Regions from separate parts of the Homo sapiens genome. Here region 2 is linked to region 1. The links come from fine-mapping of genetic effects on gene expression. A gene starts in region 1. The other region holds a variant in brackets. All regions are shown on one strand. Distances are between the middles of the regions.

Region 1 (4,398 bases):
AACTACAGCAATTTCTAAGTCCATGAGAACTGCTAGGAATGTTTAACAAAATCCAATACCTGCATTATAATAATGCACTTTAAAAAAATGATTAAATACACATCCATAGCTGAATGCAGAGATTCCAAGAACTTTGAATGCATAATTGCTACAATCATAGAGAGACTGGATTACGAGCCACGGCTGGTACGGATGGATTCCTTCCTCCCATTAAGGCACTCACAGGCAAGTGTGATAGACAATGTTGCTCTGATGACTGGCAGTGAGACCAGAAGATAGTGTGAAGGGCAGCAAGGAGGGTAGGGTGGGATGCGATAATGGAAAATGGGAGTGATTCATTCTACTTAATGCATATACGTTTTATGGGTTTAAATCTGGAGGGAAACAACTTTTTAAACTCAACTCCTTGTGTGTGAGAATTAAATGGAAGCACATCTTGGACCCCACTTTTTATAGGTTTAGTGCCACCTCAAAAAATTCCATACTGATCCATTCTGAAACAACTGCTTTTCTTACTGGAAAGCCACAAAGTTGGTGCAGAATCTATGAAATGGAAAATTAGACCCAAGCCAACATGCTCATGCATAAGCTTGATTTTAATGAAAAGGTACACGGAGCAGCCGCACCTGGAGGAAAAGCCCCCTCAGGGCTCCCCACCTCCAGTATCCCCATGTGCTTGAGTTTGCATCCTTACCCTGTCCCTGACTGTGTGACCTTGGGCAAGTTAGTTAACCTTTCTAAGTCCTGGCTTGTTCATCTTCAACATGGACATAGCAGGTTTGCTGTGAGGACTAAATGAGCTCATACACAAATAGTTTTAGCTCAGTACCTGGTACATATGAACATTTAAGAAACATGTCCTTCTCGTGATTAGATGTGACACTCTGACCATTTTAGAAGCAATTACGGTTCAGCTATCATATCCCAACATCTTGTGATAACCATTTTCATTTTTTGCTTCTAGCTCTTACTATTCTTTTCATCACAATATTTTAGGGTGGAGGTATTTGGGGGAGGAGGTAAGCAGTTATATACATCCCATTTTCCCACTGTTGTTCAAAGCAAGGTGAAAAGCCAGGGAAATAAACACATGCACTGAAGAGAAATTCAGTCTTTAGGATATGATGTGATAGGTGTATGGAATATAAACAAATCATATAATTTCAACCTCTCACATATAGGGCATCAAATCATAGGTAGGTCTTATTTTAAAAGAAAAGCCAAGCAGCATTAAAGAGGATAGAGGGAACCCATATGGGCCTATTGCTAGCTCAGTATTGGTGACTGTGAAACAGGGATGGGTGAGCTAGATTACGGGGGTGTTTCATGGGGTCTGACTTCCAACAGGTGGCTAGCTTTAGTCATGTTCAGATGCAAAACCGTAATGAGTTTGAGTATGCAAGTCCCAGGGATTCTGTTGAAGGCCATCTTTTCTCGGCCATCAAGGGAGACAATTTTCTAGGTTTAAGCCTCCCTGGCAAGTTAGCAAGCAGGGAACTGCCTGCCCTAGCTTGCACCTGTCCCCTGAAGGGGATTCTGGCCTGACGGTGAAGACCCACCATCCCTTCCAGACAGCCCATTCTGCCGCTGGGGCACCTCCCGACAAACGGGGGAAGCCCACTAGGAAGTGGTCACGACCAACCAAGCCACAAATCCTCAGGGTGTGGGATTTCCACCTCTATACCACGTCTGAAAACCGAAAATAGGCGCCCGCTTGCCATACTGCAATGGGATTCCCCCCAGCAGCAACCCCCCCCTCCAGCTTGCATGTTTTATTAATAAATGCAAGATGGCACACGGAGGCAAAGAATGGGAGGTAAGGCATCTGCAGCTGGACCCGAACCAGGGCAGTTTGCAAAAATAAATAAGAAGCATGTGACAAGAAGCAGGTCTCCAGGCTGGAGCTGAAGCCCTGGGCTGCCCCACGCACCCTCGCCTGGCTCCCCCGGCCAGGGGGATGAAGGTCAGCGGCAAGATCCCAGCCCTTCCGAGCACGCATCCTGCAAACCTTGACCGGTCCCCCCACCCCCCGCCCCGACCACAAGACTCGGGCAGTGAGGCAGGGGAAGCTCTGGCCGCGGCCGGCTGCGAGGACACATACCTGCTGCCCGGGCTCGGGATTCGCTCGGCTCTGCAGCGGCGCCGGCCGCGGCTCGCGCTCCCGGGGCTCCCCTCTCCGCCCCCCCGCCCCCTCGCGGCCCCGCCGCTCCCTCCGCCCCTCCGCCCACCGCGCTCGGGGGCGCGCGCGAGGCCTCGCGCCGGCGGCTTGGCCGAGCCCGCGCCTGCGCCCTCGCCTCCCGCCGGCCGCGCGCGCGCGCCCCCGAGGCTGCGGAACGGCGGCGCGGCTGTCTAGGAAACCGCGGCGTCGGCTGGCAGGGGCTGGCGGCCTGAGCTGGGCAGGGGGCGGAGGCGGGGGCTCGGCTGTCTCCGGGGCTGCCACGCAGAGCGGGCTTCGTGGCGTGGGTGAGGGGGTCGCGGGGCAGGGTCGGGGCCTGAGTGCGAGCGTGTGGAGAGGCGAGGGGGCCGCGAAGGGTGGGTTTGACGGGGACGCAGGCGGGGCGCAGAAGCAACAAGTGCGGAGGCCGAGGGCGTCGCTCGGGGAAGCGGAGGACCCCCGCGGGATTTCGTACAGCTGAGAATGGGAACCTCCCGTCGCTTTGGCGCAGCGCTTTGCAGTTTCCAGAGCTCTTTCCCAGTTGCTCCGTTTCATCCGCGCGGGGCGCCCGGTGAGGGAGCGGATGGCACGCAGTGCCCGCTGCGCTTGGAGGCCACCGAGGGGAAAACACCTCTTTCTGTGTGGCCGGAGTCATAGCACGGTCAGAGTGCCTTGACTCTCAGTTGGCTGCCTGGGAGAAAAATACCTGTCAGTACATTCATTTGATGGCCTCAGCTCAGGACCCTTGTAGGACCGTGTTTCTCCTCTTTTTCCGTTTTTCGTTATCTGACTCTTAAAAAGGCTTTTTACACGTCCCCATCTCCTTTCCCCGTGAAATCCCAGTACCGCAGATACACTGTCGACCTGCTTATGTGCTGTATGTGTTATCCGTGCTTGATGCATAAAAAGTAACATTGCGCCCCTTGGAGGCAGCATCGCCCCGGTGGAGAAGCCTGTCCTAGGGCCATGATTGCCAGTTACCGGGTGGGTTAAACGGAACCACTGAGCAATCTGGATGCACCCACAGATATTCTCTGTGGTTAAAAAAAAAGTCCTCACCCATAATGGGTACTACTCTAATTAATGTTTGCAAGGGCTGCTGTGAATACGGCCATTTAAGCAGCTTCTGGATTCATAGTAGCTTATTATCGTTTGTCTTCTCCACCAATTCTTGCTAAAAATATAGCCATTTTCCTATAGGGTGTTGCGATTTTTATCTTAAAATATTTGAAAAGATGGGAAACCCTTGTTTCTAGGACACGGAGTTTCAGAATGGCTTTTGGCTCTGCAGATAGGTTTGATTTCTGATTCTTGTACCTCTTCTAAAGTGTTTTTATTTGATTAGGTCCAGTTGGCCTCCCAGGAATGTCCTTTGTCTTTTCTTCCTGCCGTAGCTTTTTTAGTATGGATAAAATGAAAATGGTAGAGTTGAAGGACTTCAAAACCACCTCTTGGAATTGCCCCACGGTCTTGGACTACCTTCCCTGGATTATACGGGAATATCTATACAGGGAGTATCTACTTTTGGCAAACTGAGAAAAAAATGTAAAATTTCTTCAGATCCTCCTTCGCCTTTCAGCATTTCCTACTCATCTCTAATCTCTAATGGTGGAATTTCAGAGGAAGAAACACTTGGAGATGATACTTGTGGAAGCTACCTGGGTTGCCAAAGGATTTTTCTACATTTCTAGACGGAAGAAATGTGGACTAGAATAGAGAAAGTGGAGATGGGTTAAGAAAAATTAATGGAGGATGCACGGGAGGGGAGCTATAGTTTTCTGACAGTCAGTGACAGCATTTTAACTAGGTACACTTTCTTTAGAAAAAGCTTTGGCATAGCTTGCCCAGATTGTTATCCACTCCATTTTCCACCTTAGTAGAACTCTACTTAAGATTTGATTGAAACTATTGAGAAGCATCCAGTTATAACGCTAATTAACTCTCAGAGTACGACAAGTATTTTGAAACTTGCTGAGAGAAATTTGAAGACCACTTCAAATTTCTACCAGGAATCTTTGTATCCTAATAAAATTTTTTTGAATTCGGGTTCATGCGACTTCAAGGGAACATTTTTTTCTACAATGGCTATTTATAGTATAATAGCCATTGTAGAAAATATTTATATTTATAAATATTTATATTATGTATTTATAATATAATAGCCATTGTATTGAAAATTACATGCTAATAAAGTTTACGTGTGTCTTAAGTGTTCTGGGTTTTGTCCTTTTCTGAGTAATCCG
Region 2 (4,398 bases), 220 kb before region 1:
AAGAATCAAAACTCATCTTAGATCCATAGGAGAAGTGAGGTTGCATGGCAAACTGCTGTCCCCCAAACTGGAGAGACCAACAAGCAAATACAGATAATCACAACTTCCCAGAGCAGAAACCCAAAAGTAGCAACCTCCACAGGAGCTGGTGGTGGGGTAGGGGGACTTGAAGTCTTGTTGATGAATTGTTGGAGGTTCCGTGTTAAAAACTCCAGGTGGGCAGGGCACGGTGGCTCATGCCTGTAATCCCAGCACTTTGGGAGGCCGAGGTGGGCAGATCATTTGAGGCCAGGAGTTTGAGACCAGCCTGGCCAACTTGGCGAAACCCCATCTGTACTAAAAATACAAAAATTAGTTGGGCGTGGCAGCACGCACCTGTAGTCTCAGCTACTTGGGAGGCTGAGGCAGAAGAATCGCTTGAATCCTGGAGATGGAGGTTGCAGTGAGCCAAGATCGTACCACTGTACTCCAGCCTGGGCGACAGAGTGAGACTCTGGTTTTTTGTTTTTTTTTTTTGTTTTTGTTTTTGACAAAAAACTCCAGGGGTATCCAGTGTGAGGTCCCAACATTTTTGTGAATTTTACCTTCAGGAGCTCTTCCACATGGTGAAAATTAGAGAAAAATCACCTCATGCTTCCGACAAGGGGACGGGAAAGGGAACCATTTTAAAATATGCCAGAGCATTCTGTTCTTCTTAACAAGGTCTGATCTCCTTCAGGAGGAACTGTTTAACCAGAGATTAACTTGTGGGGCTTTATCAGAGCCTAACTGACCTGAGGAAAGGTAAATACTCAACTTCAGCCATTCTAGCCATCCTGTCCCACCTAAGGGAGAGAGAGGAACTGAGAAGCATGTGTAAAGTTCACAGTCTCAATATGGTCTTATTGAGGTACGGTCTTAGTAAAAGACCAAGACGTCACCATAGGACTGTAGAATGCTTCCTTTCCCCCAACACCTTACCACCATGTAATAAAGGCTTATTGACAGCACTTCCTTTTACCCGTGTACATCATGTTGGGCTATCAAGAAAATATTGCAAGATATACTAAAAGGTAAAAGACAGTTTGAAGAGACAGAGAAAGCATCAGAACCAGACTGAGCTGGAATAATCAGACTGGAAATTTAAAACAACTGTGATTAGTATACTAAGGTCTCTAATGAATAAAAAGCAAGCAAGATGTGCAATATAAGCAGAGGGCTAGAAATCCACGAAAGAAACAGAAATGCTAGAGATAAAAAACATTGTAGCAGAAATGAAGTATACCTTTTAAGGACTTCTTAGTAGACTGGATATGGCCGAGGAAAGAATCTCTGAGCTTTAGGATATCTCAGTAGAAACCTCCAAAACTGAAAAGCGAAGAGAAAAATAACCAGAAAAAGAAAAAAACAACAACAACAAAAAAACCTGAACTGTAATATAATATCTAAGAATTGTGGAACAGCTTCTAAGAGTATAACATGTAATGGGAATACTAGAAGGAGAAGAGAGAAAGGAACAGAAGCAATATCTGACTGAGGATTTCCCCTCATTAATGTCAGATACCAATCCACAGATCTAGGAAGCTGAGAGAACACCAAATATGAGAAATGCCAGAAGAACTTCAACTAGGCCTATCATTTGCAAACTACAGGAAATAAAAAATAACAAATACTGAAGCCAGAGGAAAAAATCCACCATACCTGTACAAGAGCAAAGATAATAATTAGATCTGATCTCTTTTCAGAAACCATGCAAGCAGAAGAGAGTGTAGTAAAATGTTTAAAGTGCTGAGAGAAAACACTCACCAATGTAGGATTTTATACCCTGTGAAATTATCCTTTAAAAATGGAAGAGAAATAAAGACTTTCTCAGACAAAAATTGGCAGAATATGTCATAGACTTACCTTGCAAGAAATGTTAAAAGTTCTTTTAGAGAGAAGGAAATGATAGAGGTCAAAAACTCTGGTGTATATAAAGCAAGTGAGAGCATTGAAGAGGGAATGAGTGAAGGTAAAATAAGTTTTATTTTTCTTAATTGATCTAATAGGTAACAGTTTAAAATAATAACATTGTATTCAATTACATATGCTCATGTATTACAATTACTTATGTGCTCATGTATAAGTGAAATGAATCACAATGTAAGAAACAGGAGATAGGAATTAGGATTAT[C/T]TTGCTATTAAGTGGTACTTGCACCACCTGTGAAGTAGTAAAGTGTTATTTGAAAGTGGACTTGGATTAGCTGTAAATGAATATTGCAAACTCTAGGACCAGCACTAAAGTAAAACAAAAATACAACTAATAGCTAAGAAAAGAGACAAAATGAAATTATTTAAAATGCTCAGTTGGTGGAAGACAAAAATAGGAAAAAAGAACAAGGGCAACAAATAGAAAACCGTTACAAATATGGTAGATATTAATCCAACTGTGTCAGTTATTACTTTCAACATCAGTAGTGTAAATGCACCAATTAAAGATAAAGATTGTCATAGTGGATGAAAAAGTAAGACCCAACTATATGGTGTCTACAAGAAACCCACTTTAAATATAAAAATACATATACATATAAAGTAAATGAGTGGAGAAAGATATACCATGGTGATGCTAATTGAAAGAAAGCAGGAGTAGCTATATTAATTTCAGATGGAGCCAATTTAAAGTTAAGTTTTATTAGGTAAATAAAACCTGAGTTTTAATACACTTAAAGTTTTAAGTTCTAAAACTTACATTTTAATAAAACTTAATATAACTTAAGTTTCGCTGATATTGGGCTCCATATTCCAGAAATCACAGTGTAAGGGTTAGGAATATGGGAGATTGGTGCAGGTTAGGGAGCATGCAGAGCATTATGGGGATCAGTGTATGGGTTATGAAGGATAACCTTTGAGTTTGGGGCTTATGGGGACAGACATAATGAAGGGCAGGGTGTGATTAGTCCTGGCTGACTCAAGATAGTGGTGGTGAGGCTGTGCGTTTTTGGAGGTTGTTAGTTGTATTGTCTATGGCTCCCTCTGTCCTTTTCAGCTTGAGATGAAGAGGCCTGAGGCTCATTCTTGACTCCTGCTGGGGAAGGGGTTGTTTTACTCCAAGTATAGGGCTCATTGTTGACTCCTGTTGAATGAGAATAGAAAGTCTGTTAAATTTTATTTGTGAATTTGATAGCAAATACTGGTTAAACCTTCATCTTGTTATATGAAACTCTTTGTCCAGTATCTTCTCTTTATAGTATTACAAGAGGTAATATTGTAAAACCTTTCTTCAAAACTTGTGAAGTTATTACTTAAAGGAGCATTATATAATGACATTCTAAACATTATAGTGTAAATTTTATGACTGCCATTTTGATAAAGCATGCAGAAGAGTTAAGCCCAAATTAAAATCTGAAATACTTGGGTATAAAAAGAAGTTATTCCTTGAAGCTTTCTGTATAAAATATACTAGTACTTAGAATTCTAAATCAATGTCTTTGTTTACAGTTATCAGTGAATATCCTAACTAGCTGAATAATAGAGCTTGAAAAAAATGACAAATATTTTTTCCCCTTAGTTGGTGCTTCCCGTGCTGCTGTTGATGCTGGCTTTGTTCCCAATGACATGCAAGTTGGACAGACGGGAAAAATAGTAGCACCAGTAAGTATTGCAATAAAATATGCTGTGTAAAATGTTATGGGGATAAGTACTGTATGTATTTGTTGAACAGTGATCTCAGTGATTTACCTTACTCAGTGTTCCTGAGCAGTTAGCCAGTACCATGGTGAATATGTCATTTTCACAAGGTCTGTGTAGTTCTTGATCCTAGTAAAATGCCCAGCAGTTCTTAAATCCAGCTTATTATTCAAGTATTTTAAAGCAGTGGAACATTTTATCAAATTAAGTCATATTACATCAAATAAAACATTGATAAAAGCAGCATTTTATCAACTCAGATTTATAAGTTCACATTGATAAGATTTATTTCCATAAAGCCTTTAGAGAGTATAAAATCAATGAGAACAATGAACCTATTTTAATGAACAGAATTTTGAAATTGGGAGCTGTGAATGACAGTTTTAGTCTTATATCTTCCTGAACACCTAGTTTCTGTATTTTGTCTTATAGTATCAATTTCAGAAAATTCTGTTCTACATAGATAAGTGATACTAGAATATTCTTCAGTTAAGCCTGTCTAAAACTTGGAAGAGCAGGAAATTTTGGTCTCAAAGTTGAATCACAGTTGATAATGACTGTTTATATTTCTTAGGTGATACAGATTTTCAGTGAATAGGAGTCTCAGCCAGTTTAAACTTGTATAGTATGCAGGAAAACATGTTTTTTATATATTTCAAAACAATATGCAGTCTTGTCCATTAAAAAAAAATCTTACATCCCAGTGCTCTATTCTATGAGATATTCATTCACAGTTTTAAGATGCTGTAGTCA

Alleles and levels. Alleles are on the strand shown, and positions count from the first base shown. SD is a standard deviation of normalised expression in the study named.
In carriers of allele C in region 2, the expression in fibroblasts of the gene that starts at base 2,133 in region 1 tends to be lower than with T alone (small effect, 0.23 SD a copy in GTEx).

Evidence for each region. PIP is the estimated chance that this variant, and not a neighbour inherited with it, causes the effect.
Region 2: its variant is the best candidate, but not a certain one, in a credible set for the expression of TMEM266 in fibroblasts (GTEx, PIP 0.53).

What each region holds. Positions count from the first base shown.
Region 1 is chr15:76,057,720-76,062,117 of GRCh38, reverse strand. TMEM266 (transmembrane protein 266) reads right to left here and starts at 2,133. Exons shown (of 11, transcript NM_152335.5): 1 at 2,102-2,133. It also overlaps a transcript of NRG4 not described here. RefSeq lists a silencer at 3,091-3,140.
Region 2 is chr15:76,273,623-76,278,020 of GRCh38, reverse strand. It overlaps ETFA (electron transfer flavoprotein subunit alpha), which reads left to right. Exons shown (of 12, transcript NM_000126.4): 9 at 3,527-3,609. Among named protein-coding and RNA genes, the nearest start is that of ETFA, 36 kb to the left of the region's middle. The variant C/T (reference allele first, on the strand shown) is at 2,153.